Homo sapiens: one gene and its partners. The protein of the gene in region 3 interacts with the protein of the main gene of each other region in a biochemical or structural test. Each region holds a gene or a part of one and is shown on either strand. Other genes may lie near its edges. The genes, in order: ARHGEF11, SNTG1 and XKR7.

The links.
Region 1: the proteins of XKR7 (region 3) and ARHGEF11 interact in a test that uses a peptide from one of them, tested with the Homo sapiens proteins (one large-scale study listed by IntAct).
Region 2: the proteins of XKR7 (region 3) and SNTG1 interact in a test that uses a peptide from one of them, tested with the Homo sapiens proteins (one large-scale study listed by IntAct).

What each region holds. Positions count from the first base shown.
Region 1 is NC_000001.11:156,937,743-156,941,242, reverse strand, and holds part of ARHGEF11 (rho guanine nucleotide exchange factor 11), read left to right. Parts: intron 1-169; exon of another isoform or gene 170-185; coding exon of another isoform or gene 186-188; intron 189-817; coding exon 818-1,036; intron 1,037-1,332; coding exon 1,333-1,695; intron 1,696-2,729; coding exon 2,730-2,825; intron 2,826-3,500. UniProt on the Homo sapiens protein: May play a role in the regulation of RhoA GTPase by guanine nucleotide-binding alpha-12 (GNA12) and alpha-13 (GNA13). Acts as guanine nucleotide exchange factor (GEF) for RhoA GTPase and may act as GTPase-activating protein (GAP) for GNA12 and GNA13.
Region 2 is NC_000008.11:50,701,907-50,705,631, forward strand, and holds part of SNTG1 (gamma-1-syntrophin), read left to right. Parts: intron 1-2,667; exon of another isoform or gene 2,668-2,693; coding exon 2,694-2,846; intron 2,847-3,725. UniProt on the Homo sapiens protein: Adapter protein that binds to and probably organizes the subcellular localization of a variety of proteins. May link various receptors to the actin cytoskeleton and the dystrophin glycoprotein complex.
Region 3 is NC_000020.11:31,966,643-31,970,467, forward strand, and holds the start of XKR7 (XK-related protein 7), read left to right. Parts: upstream 1-1,508; 5' UTR 1,509-1,533; coding exon 1,534-2,117; intron 2,118-3,825.

The DNA of each region.
Region 1 (3,500 bases), on a different chromosome or scaffold from region 3:
GAAGAAACAGGGCGGGAGGAAGAGTCTGGAAGAGGAAGGAGAGCAGACTGAACAGACTTAAGAAAGGGTGAACTCGCTCACCTGACCAGAAATTCCCACCCAGCCTCTCTGGGTGACGGCATCAGCTGTGGAAGAAGACGAGCAGTCTGGCGGGATCCACGGGCCCTGCATCCTCCAGCCAGGGGTTACTGTTGGGGAGGGAGATACATGCTGCAACAATGAGAATGGAAAACATGGCGGGGCTGGGGAGCTCAAAGGGCTTAAGATGCAGTTACTGTGATGGGATTGGTAGAGGGGACAGCATTCTCATTGAGAGCTTGCGTGAGAAATAACCTGGGGTCTTGGGTTTCAGGAGAAATCTCGGGTTTCCTGGCTGGGTCCCTGTTGTTTCCTTCTGCTTAGAATGCTTTTCCTCCTAACGCCACACCTCCTTCACGTCTTCATTCCAGTGTCCTCTTGGCCCAATCTGTTTAATACTGTAGCCAGCACTGTCCAGCCCCTAGCCCCATGCCCTGTTGTTGTTTTCTTCTTTCCGGTGGAAGTTACTGCCTTCTAACAAACTACATAATTGACTGAAGTGTCTTATTTTTGTATGTCCCTCCCCTAGAATGTAAGCTCAACATAGGCAGGGATCTTTTTGTTTTGCTTACTGTTGTATGCCAAGAGCCTGGGACAGTGCTGGCCATGGGAAGTTCTCAGTAAACAACTGTAGAATAAGTCAGTGTTCCCAGCCCCTTGGCTCCAAAGCTGCCCATAGGCTCTCCCATACGTGCCCTCTCCCTTTCCCTGCCTTACAATCTTCTCTCATCCGAAACAGGCACTGGGTCCCAGCAGAGGGTCCAAGGGAAGCACCAGGTCCTGCTAGAGGACCCTGAGCAGGAGGGCAGTGCAGAGGAAGAGGAACTGGGTGTCCTGCCTTGCCCTTCCACATCCCTGGATGGAGAGAACAGGGGCATCAGGACAAGGAACCCCATCCACTTGGCCTTCCCAGGCCCTCTGTTCATGGAAGGGCTCGCTGACTCCGCTCTGGAAGATGGTGAGTGCTTCAAGGCCCTGCCGTCAGCCCCTGGTCCCCAGTCGCACACCCAGTGTGAACTGGCAGGCGCCTGCACCCTCCACCTTCCCGAAGGCTCTTCCTGGTGTGCTTGAGGAGAGATGGATGCGGAGACAGATGTCATTCCCCACCCAACCCCCACCAGCTAGTTGGCCAGAGCCCTCCAGCTTCACCTGTGCCTGAGGTCACCACCTTGGGGTCAGTGGGGCAGTACAACGATCCTTCTGGCGTGGTGTGCAGTCCCATGCTGGGAAGACATCACCCTGTTTCCCCTCCAGTGGAGAACCTGCGACATCTGATCCTGTGGAGCCTGCTGCCAGGTCACACCATGGAAACTCAGGCTGCCCAGGAGCCCGAGGACGACCTGACACCCACACCTTCTGTCATCAGCGTCACCTCTCACCCCTGGGACCCAGGCTCCCCAGGGCAAGCACCCCCTGGGGGTGAAGGGGACAACACCCAGCTTGCAGGGCTGGAGGGGGAACGGCCAGAGCAGGAAGACATGGGTCTCTGTTCTCTGGAACACCTACCCCCAAGGACCAGAAATTCTGGGATATGGGAGTCTCCAGAACTGGACAGGAATCTGGCTGAAGATGCTTCAAGCACAGAGGCAGCAGGAGGTTACAAAGTTGTGAGAAAAGGTAAAATAAATGGGAGTGTCCAGTGGGGAGACAAGCACCCTTGCTAGGTGAGATAAGTCTTCCGAACAGCTGCTTCCTTCCCTATACTCCCCCTGGGTACCGTGTGAGCAGAGACCTACGCTGGGTCCTGGAAGAAGGAGACAACGCCGATATCAGGCAGGCTTTGGAGTTGGACATTCGAGATTCAGAGCTTAGCTCTGCCACTTAATATCTGTGTGGCTTTAGACAAAATTCTGAATCATCTCTGAACTTTGTTTTATAGCACATAAGGACATTTCTTTCTGCCTGGCACAAACCAACTACCAGTACCAGTCTCTGTTAGTGCTCCTCACTGATCTCCTGTTCCCAGGGAAAAGAGCCACTCTTCTCAGGAGCCTCAGGCCGGGAAAGACAGGGCAGGTGCATGCAGCCCCTCACGCCAGGCAACAGCTCCAAGGGCAGTAGAGGTGGCAGCTGGGACTGGAAGGGGTGGAGGACAAAGCTGGGAAGACATTTGGCGAGTGAGGGATGTGGGGAGTGAACAAGGTGGCAGGGAGGGCACCCCGGGTTGGGAAACACCATGGACGGCCTTGAGACAAGAAAAGCCAAGACAAGCTCACAGGGAGGCCAATAGATGAGCCCAGGGAGGAAGGTCCCCACCCCGGGAAGAGTGGGCTGGTCTGAGAGGGTGGCAAGAAAAGTAGAACAAAGCCTGGGGCACACATGGGATGGGGTTCCACGCTAGTGGGCCTGCCCTCCCCTGGGATTCCACTCTGCCTCCCTTCCAGCAGCATTTTTCATTCCATCTGCCCAAGGGCCACCTGTCTCCTGGGTTTCTGGGAACTGACCTTCCTTCTCTGTCTCTCGGTGAATTGGTGGAAAGTTCTCTGCACTGCCTGGGATGTCATCGTGTATGATCTTGTGTTCACCTTGTTCTTCCCATTTTCTCCTCCCCCTGTCCCCACCTCCTGCCCTCTCTCCTTCCTGTTCTCTCTCCCTTCCCTTTCCTTGTGTTTTGGTCTCTCCTCTTCCTGGTGGTGGTGGTGTCGGTGCAGCTGAGGTGGCAGGCAGCAAGGTTGTCCCTGCACTACCAGAGAGTGGCCAGTCAGAGCCTGGGCCACCTGAAGTGGAAGGCGGAACAAAGGCTACGGGTAATAACTTTCTCCTTGGAGCTAAAGACAGGCCAAGACTGGAGTGTGGAACCTGTGAGGGCAGAGTCGGACCCCTGCCCATGGTCACACACACACCCACAAGCTCCCTCAGCTGCCTGGAATGGGGAGGAGGAAGATCTGGCTCTAAAGACGGGGAGATCTGGTTCTAAAGGCTGGCTGTCCATCCAGCCTTAAGAAGCCACCTGTCCAGGCTCCTGTTCAGAATGGCAGGGATAAATGCCTGTGTGCAATTGTGGGAGGGGCAGGGAAGCCTGGCCTGGGGGTGGGGACCTAGTGTCCTTCACCTGATATGCAAGCAGCCACTTCCCCACCTCAGCCGCCGCTCCAGTGTCACTGTGGAAATCGGCTGAAAGAGCCTCCCAGATTCCGCGGTGGTTCTCTGTGCTTCCTGCCTGTCAGGAACCCTCCACGTCCTTCCTCCAGCTCTCTCTGACACCCCTTGGTTGGGTCAAGGGACCTCCAGAGGATCGTGGCATGGATGGAAGAGGGGCAGGGCAGGGCTGTAGTTCATCCAGAGCTGGAGTCAGGCAGGGCAAGAGGGCTGCTGCCTGCTCCTTTCAGAAGAGCCTGAAACCAGCTCACAATCTGTTTACTCAAGGAGGGGGAGCCACTCCAATTTCCCCAAATGAAACACTGCAGCTCTGCCACTTCTCC
Region 2 (3,725 bases), on a different chromosome or scaffold from region 3:
GTGGCACAGTCTTGGCTCACTGCAACCTCCTCATCCTAGGTTCAAGTGATTCTCCTGCCTCAGACTCCCACGTAGCTGGAATTACAGGGATGCACCACCATGTCCGGCTAATTTTTGTATTTTTATTAGAAATGGGGTTTCACCATGTGGGACAGTCTGGTCTGGAACTCCCCAACCTCAAGTGATCTGCCCACCTCGGCCTCCCAAATTGCTGGGATTACTGACATGAGCCACTGCGCCCAGCCTCTTATTTTTTTTATAATGGCATTTACAATAATTTGTACTAATATATTTACTTGTGTAGTTATTATCTCTCATTGTTCCCTCCATAGATATTATAACCCCAAAACTACTAAAAAGTATTTATAATTTATCATTAGATTGTACTCTCAAACATATTATGTTTTCATTTTTTTCTCCCTTCAGACAGAGTAGGAAAATCAATAAGCACAGCATTTATCATCCTTTTAGCTTTCTGAGCATCTACTGGCAGCAAGGGTCAGAGCTAAATTCTACAACCCTGGAAGTAAATGCCTTCCATTAGCTCTCTTCCAGCAATTATAAGAATGCAAGCAGGAAACAATGAAAATAGTTATTATTTTTTAAACATTTGCCAAAGCAGAGAATTCCATCTAACATTTTGGGTGTTTAATAATGATACACTTACATCCCTCCTTATGAGAAATGATTACAGATACCAGTGATTAACCCTTTGACAATTTTCAGTACACTGCATAGATATAGCATATATACAGTCATTTAATAACTGAGATATATTTCAGGAAATGCCTCTCAGTTAGATGGTTCCACTGTTGTACAAACACCACAGAATTTGCTTGCACAACCTGAGACAGCATAACGTACTGCACAGCGAGGTTATACAGTACAGCCTATTTCTCCTAGGTTACACACCTGTATAGCATATGACTGTATTGAATACTGTAGGCAAAAGTAACATAATGGTAAGTAGTTGTTTAAACACATCTACACATAGAAAAAGTAAAGTAAAAGTACAGTCTAAAAGATTTAAAAAAAAAATGATACACAGATACAGGGCACTTACCATGAATGGAGTTTGCAGAATGGTAGTTGCTCTGGGTGAGTCAATGAATGAGTGATGAGTAAATGTGAAGGCCTAGGATGTTACTATACAGCACTATAGACTTTATAAATACTGAGCACTTAGACTACACTACATTTATAAGAAGTATTTTTTTCTGCAATAATAAACTAAGCTTAGCTTACTGTAACATTTTTTACTTTACAAAGTTAATTTTTTCAACTTTGGCCTTTTTTGTAGAAGTGCTTAGCTTAAAACACAAACACATTATGTAGCTGTACAAAATTATTCTATATCCTTATTCTCTACATTTTTTTTCTACTTTTAAATTTACAAATTACTTTTTTATTTTTGGCTTTTTAAAATTTTTATAAAAAATAAGACAGAAACACACACATTAACCTTGGCCTGCATATAGTCAGGATGAGTTCCATCATCACATCTTGTCCCACTGGAAGGTCTTCAGGGGCAATAACACGCATGGAGCTGTCATCTCTTATGATAATGATGCCGTCTTCTGGATACCTTCTGAAGGAACTGCTTGAGCCTGTTTTATAGTTAACTATATTTTTAATAAATAGAAGGAGTACACTAAAAAAATAGGAGTACAGTAAATACAGTAATATTTACTGTATTACTATAATACAGTAAATACATAAACCAGTAACATATTCTTTCTTATCATCATTATTATTATGTAGCATACATCATAATCGTATGTGCTAGACTTACACAGCTGTCAGCACAGCAGGTTTGTTTACACCAGCATGACCACAAACACAAGAGTAATGCATTGCTCTATGACATTACAACGGCTATGACATTGCTAGGGGATAGGAATTTTTCAGCTCCCTTATAACCTTATAGGATCACCGTCGCATATGCAGTTCATCATTAACCCAAACATCCTTATGCGGCACATGACTGTATTTAAAATGCTATATCTGACATGTTGCATTGGGTTACTCTGTTTCATAAATTATTTGCTTCACTTTTTTTTCTCATGTTAATGTCTCTTAAATTGGAATATATGTAAATTTGTGAACACTTCAGTTGAAAACTTCTGGTAAGACCAAGAAATTGCCAGCATCAAAGTCGTTTTTTTGATACAATGAAATACAGTTACACAAGTAAGGTAAATAATGCGTTTTTTTTTAAGCAATATTATTGCTGTAGACAAATTAGACTCATTTTCTTTTTCATTTCTCATGGAGAAGAATATTTTGGTTTGCTTATAAAGTTCCTTAAAATTTACAAACATGTTCACAAGCATTATTTAATTTCAACATCATAACAGTTATGTAAGGAAGGGAAGAGATAGTGTGTCACCCCTTTGTAGAGTAATAAACCAAGTCTTGTATGTTAAATGCTTTGGTGGTTATATTGTTAGTAAGAGATGAAGCCAGAAACCCTAACTTCTATTTTATGGACATGCTTCAGTGTAAAGACAGAGAAGTCATGTGTTGGGGCTTTGAAGCCCGGAGTTCTGGTATAATGTCTAATGAAGACTTGGTGAATTCGCAGAGTGTTGTCTTTTTACCTGTGGCTTCTGCACCTTGGTCCAGTCAGGAATGGCCAGGTTAGCAATGTGAAGTGATGTGTGCCAGCCTGTGTAACTCCAGGTTTTCACCAGGACAGTGACCTGCTGGACCGACGGAAACAGTGCTTCACCGTGCAGTCTGAGTCTGGGGAGGACCTGTACTTCTCAGTGGAGCTGGAAAGTGACCTCGCCCAGTGGGAAAGAGCCTTCCAGACAGCAACCTTTCTAGAAGTAGAACGGATACAGGTGAGAGTCTGTGGGACTGCAGGATGTGTGGCTCCCTCAGATGCATGACCACTTCCCTAGAGTTCTAATATCATTCCAAAGTAGTGTAAAAATACAGTTCTGGGAATCTTGACCTCATATACATTCTATAATTAGCCATTTTTGTTTAGTGACTAGTAATACAGCTCTGAATAAAATTTTAATTTTTCCACGACTTGATCTTTCCAGGCTATTTCCTACTACTAATTAAAAATATATTTCTAATTTTAATTAGACATTACTCTGACTTAAATCTAATATAGAAAATACTCTGATTTAATGAATTGTTGACAAGGTCACTTCCTGTTCTCCAAATATGACCTCCTAATTTCCAGCCTGTTGGCGTCATTTACTCACAATGCTCTTTCCCTTTGCCTCCATCCTTCAAAGCCACACAGAGTTTTTGAGACTTTTTATCAAAGGTCATATCATCCAGGAACATGTCCCTGATTTCCAGTCCACCCTGCCTAATGCTTGCCAATACTCCTTCTACAACTATCCTGTTCAAACAACTCTTCTTCTCACTTTTGAACACAATATAATGTACTTTTCTGGTTTTTTTACAGATAAGAAAACACAAACTAATCAATTGTATTCATACTACTCATGAAAAGCAATTACATTTTTACATGAAGTCATTAACACATACAACAATAAAAATCATAAAAGTAATACATCTGATTAGAAATACAATATAGGAAATAGATTTTAAAATAGTGTAGTTTAGTGATAAAATTTATACTGTGTTTTCTACTTATTTATAGCAGCATCTATAAGATTCTTCTATTTATTTGTCTTTTTTTTTTAAGGATTGCACACACTCAGTCTGTTTTGTATTGCAGTGACATGTGCTTGTTATTC
Region 3 (3,825 bases):
GCAGGACTGCAGTTGGCTTCTCCTTCCTGACCCAGGGCAGCTCTCTCCTTTCATCCTCTCTTCCCTGCCACTCTGAGGCAGGTTGGTTCTCCCACTTCCCTTCCTCAGCTCCTCTTTCTTCAACCCCTACCCTTTGCCCCTCCTCTCTCCCTCCCCTTGAAGGGTAGCAAAGCCTATTCTGGAGCCAGATGATGGGCATGAATTTGGCTGTAGCTACTAATTGTGTCACCCTGAACAAATTAATTTCTCTGTGACTTAGTTTCTGCATCTGTAAAATGGGAGGAAAAAAGGAGCTACCTCACAAATTGTGAGGGTAGAATGAGTTAGTAATTGTAGTGTTTTGGACAGTGCCAGGCAAAGAGACACTACTATATGGATGTTTGTATAATAAATGCCTGGATACATCCAATCTGATCAAAGGCAGAGATGGGAAATGAGCTTGGGGTATCCAGGATGTGTGGGAACTCCACCCCCTCTCATAGGTTACTGCTATAATCTCCTTCTGGTCTCACCAGCCCCAGGCTGCTTCCTTGTGATCGCTTCTCTACTCTGGCTGCTGGGTCTTCTTTCTAAATCCTGATGTGACCACATAACTCCCCTGCTCAAATACTGCAGTGGTTCCCCATTGCCTGCTGGATAAAGGCCACCTTCTGGCCCCTTAGGATCTCATCCTCAGAACTCTGCAGCCCTATCTTCCCCATCTTTCTCCTCCCCTGGATCTGAGATCCAGACTTGCTTGAAGATATGCCCTCCAGTCTCAGGCCTCCAGGCCTTTGCACTTGCTCTTTCCTCCACCCGGTGTTTCCTCCCATCCCTTTCCTCTTGATGTTGGATGTTGTCCCCTTCCCTCCCCCTACTCTACTAGGGCTGTAGCCAGATGAAGGCAGTCCCCGAGAGAGGGAAAGCGGAGAGTAAGGAAGAGACAGCAACTCAGAGCTGCAGCTTTCTCAGCTTCAAAACGAAGACAATAAGAAAAGGGGACCCCTCAAGATCAAAGGAGGGGATGGAACAATATGTGAGCACTCAGGAAACTGGAAATGAGCGTTAGCATGGAGTGACTGCTAAAGGGTTACTGGGGGGCCCGCCCAAGTCCCCCAGCTCCTTTCTTCCAAGTCCCCCACCCACCCCCCCGTCAGACCCAGGCCACTGGAGGTGAACACAGGAGAAAAACGAAGTGGAGAGAATGGGAAGGGGGAGGCGATAAACAAAAAAGAAGGAAGTGCAGTCCGAGGGGAGATGAGAGACAGAAAGCATGGGGTTGGAGCCCCGCGCCTCCGAGGAAGGAGGGAGAGGGTGACCTGGGGTGCGCCCCGCCTCCCCTGCTTCCGCATTCCCGGGGGCTGCCCCCCCTTCGGCCGCAGCTCAGGCGGGTGGGGGCGGGGCGGGGCGGCGCCGAGGAGAATGAATAATTGAAGTGGAGGGGAGGAGGAAGAAGAGGAGAAGGAGGAAGAGGAGCCGCCCGCGCAGGGTCCTCCCCACGCCGCACCCCCCTCCGCCGCCCGGAAGTCGCTCCCCGCCTCCCTCTCCGCCAACATGGCCGCGAAGTCGGATGGAGCGGCGGCCTCGGCCAGCCCGGACCCGGAGGGGGCTGCCGGTGGAGCCCGGGGCAGTGCCGGCGGGCGCGGGGAGGCGGCGGCGGCGGCCGGGCCCCCGGGGGTCGTCGGGGCGGGCGGCCCGGGGCCGCGCTACGAGCTGCGGGACTGCTGCTGGGTGCTGTGCGCGCTGCTCGTGTTCTTCTCCGACGGTGCCACGGACCTGTGGCTGGCGGCCTCCTACTACCTGCAGAATCAACACACCTACTTCAGCCTCACCTTGCTGTTCGTGCTCCTGCCCTCGCTGGTCGTGCAGTTACTGAGCTTCCGCTGGTTCGTCTACGACTACTCGGAGCCCGCAGGGTCCCCGGGACCCGCCGTCAGCACCAAGGACAGCGTAGCCGGCGGAGCCGCCATCAGCACCAAGGACAGCGCCGGCGCCTTCCGGACCAAAGAAGGCAGCCCCGAGCCGGGTCCCCAGCCTGCGCCCTCCTCGGCCAGCGCCTACCGCCGCCGCTGCTGCCGCCTCTGCATCTGGCTGCTGCAGACCCTCGTCCACCTCCTGCAGCTCGGCCAGGTCTGGAGGTAGGAGAAGCGCAGGTGGAGGGACCTGAGCCCGAGGAGTGGGGGTGGCGAAGGGCTACCTGACGTCCCAGCCCTGATCTGACCTTTCCGGGCTACCCTCCTGTCCTGACCTCCCCCCCTCCCCACCCCATTGCAGCTCTAATTTCTTCTCAGTCGGCTTCTCCCTGACCTCTGCCCCCAAGCCCTGACCAACCCCAGTGCCATCCGGTCTGACCTGGCCTTCGAGAGGGGAGGGGATGGTTCAAGAAAGGAGAGAAAGAGATCCTCAGGGGTGTGCGTGAGTGGGGAGGACCCGGGGCTCATGAAGATAAATGTGAAGCTTAAAACAGGACCACAGGGCCCTATTCTGCCATAACCCACTCCTCTCTGCCTGAGTGCCAAGCCTGGGCTCAGGAAAGATCTCAGAAGTCCTTTCCTGCTCGCAAAGATCCTCAGTTCAGAATTGCAGCTCATTCACAACCTGCAAGGAGAGTCACAGAATTTGAGACAGCTAAATGAATATCCCGCCTAAACTTCTTGGACTTTTTGGAGAAAGATATGCTGGACCCAACTGGGGAGCCCTCAGGCTCCTTCTACTTCCTATGACCCCCTCTCCCCCAGCTAAGGGTCCTCCCCTTCCAACAGGGCCAAGGGGATTTGGAATCTTGAATCTGAGATTAGATGGCCACTGGCTGCCCTTTAATCCCGAACTGGTAAGGCAAAACTGAGGCTTTGTTCAAGCTGCCCACTTTCAGTCTTCTTCCTCTGCCAGAACTGAGGGTGCCTGCTGCACTGAGTTAAGTGGAGAGAGGAGGAATTCTAAACCTAGGGCTCCTCTTGAATCTGAATTGCTATTTAGTAGCTTAGGCCCTTCTGTGCTCTAACAGAATGAACTTGCTTACTATATGATCTTAGGCAAGCCGCCCTCCTCCTTCCAAGCCTCAGTTTCCTCTTCTGTGAAATGAGGGAGAATCCCTACTCCTCTTATCTCATTGTCTTATCATTGCATTATTCTTACCTGTTGGGATGGTCAGGTGAGAGGTCTGCATGAGGGCCCTGCAGACTGTAACATTTTAAGAGTGTGGGGAAAGCATGGAAAAAGTCACTCTAGAGATATAAAGGGTGATTACTGCTGTTGTTATATTTATTCTGCTACTTGTTAACACATTCTGCCTAACTCAGAAGATTCAGTTTGGGGCTGAGGGTTGAAAACAGGACTCCTAGGGTTTGTCCCAGCTGCTCACTTGCTGTGTCACTCTTGTTGTGTTGTCGAATCTCTCTGCCTTTGTTTCCCTATCTATTCCTGCCAAGATGATGTGTATATTCCACTTAGCTTATCCTGGAGGAAAAGGGGGCGGAGCTCTATCCACACAAGGTGGTGTTATTATTATTAGCGTGACACATAAAAATATTCATGTCTACATCCAGGAACTAATCTGCATTTATCATTCTGTGCCCGAGTGGACAGATGGTGAAAGATATTTTTAGATTCTGAAATGGTAACTTCCTATTCTTGGTAGGAAGCTTCATCCCCCTTTTCCTTCAGCCTAAAGTGGGCCAGATGCCCCTCGACTCACTGGCTATCCCCCCATTCAGAATCCACTTACAAGAAACTAATACTTCTCTTCTTTGTTAAGCATAAACTGAGTTTCCCTCAAATAGGGCAAAAATGGCCATGGGTGTGGGGTCCCAGGGGAGTAGCTAGAATTGCTAAGGATCCCCTCAGCTC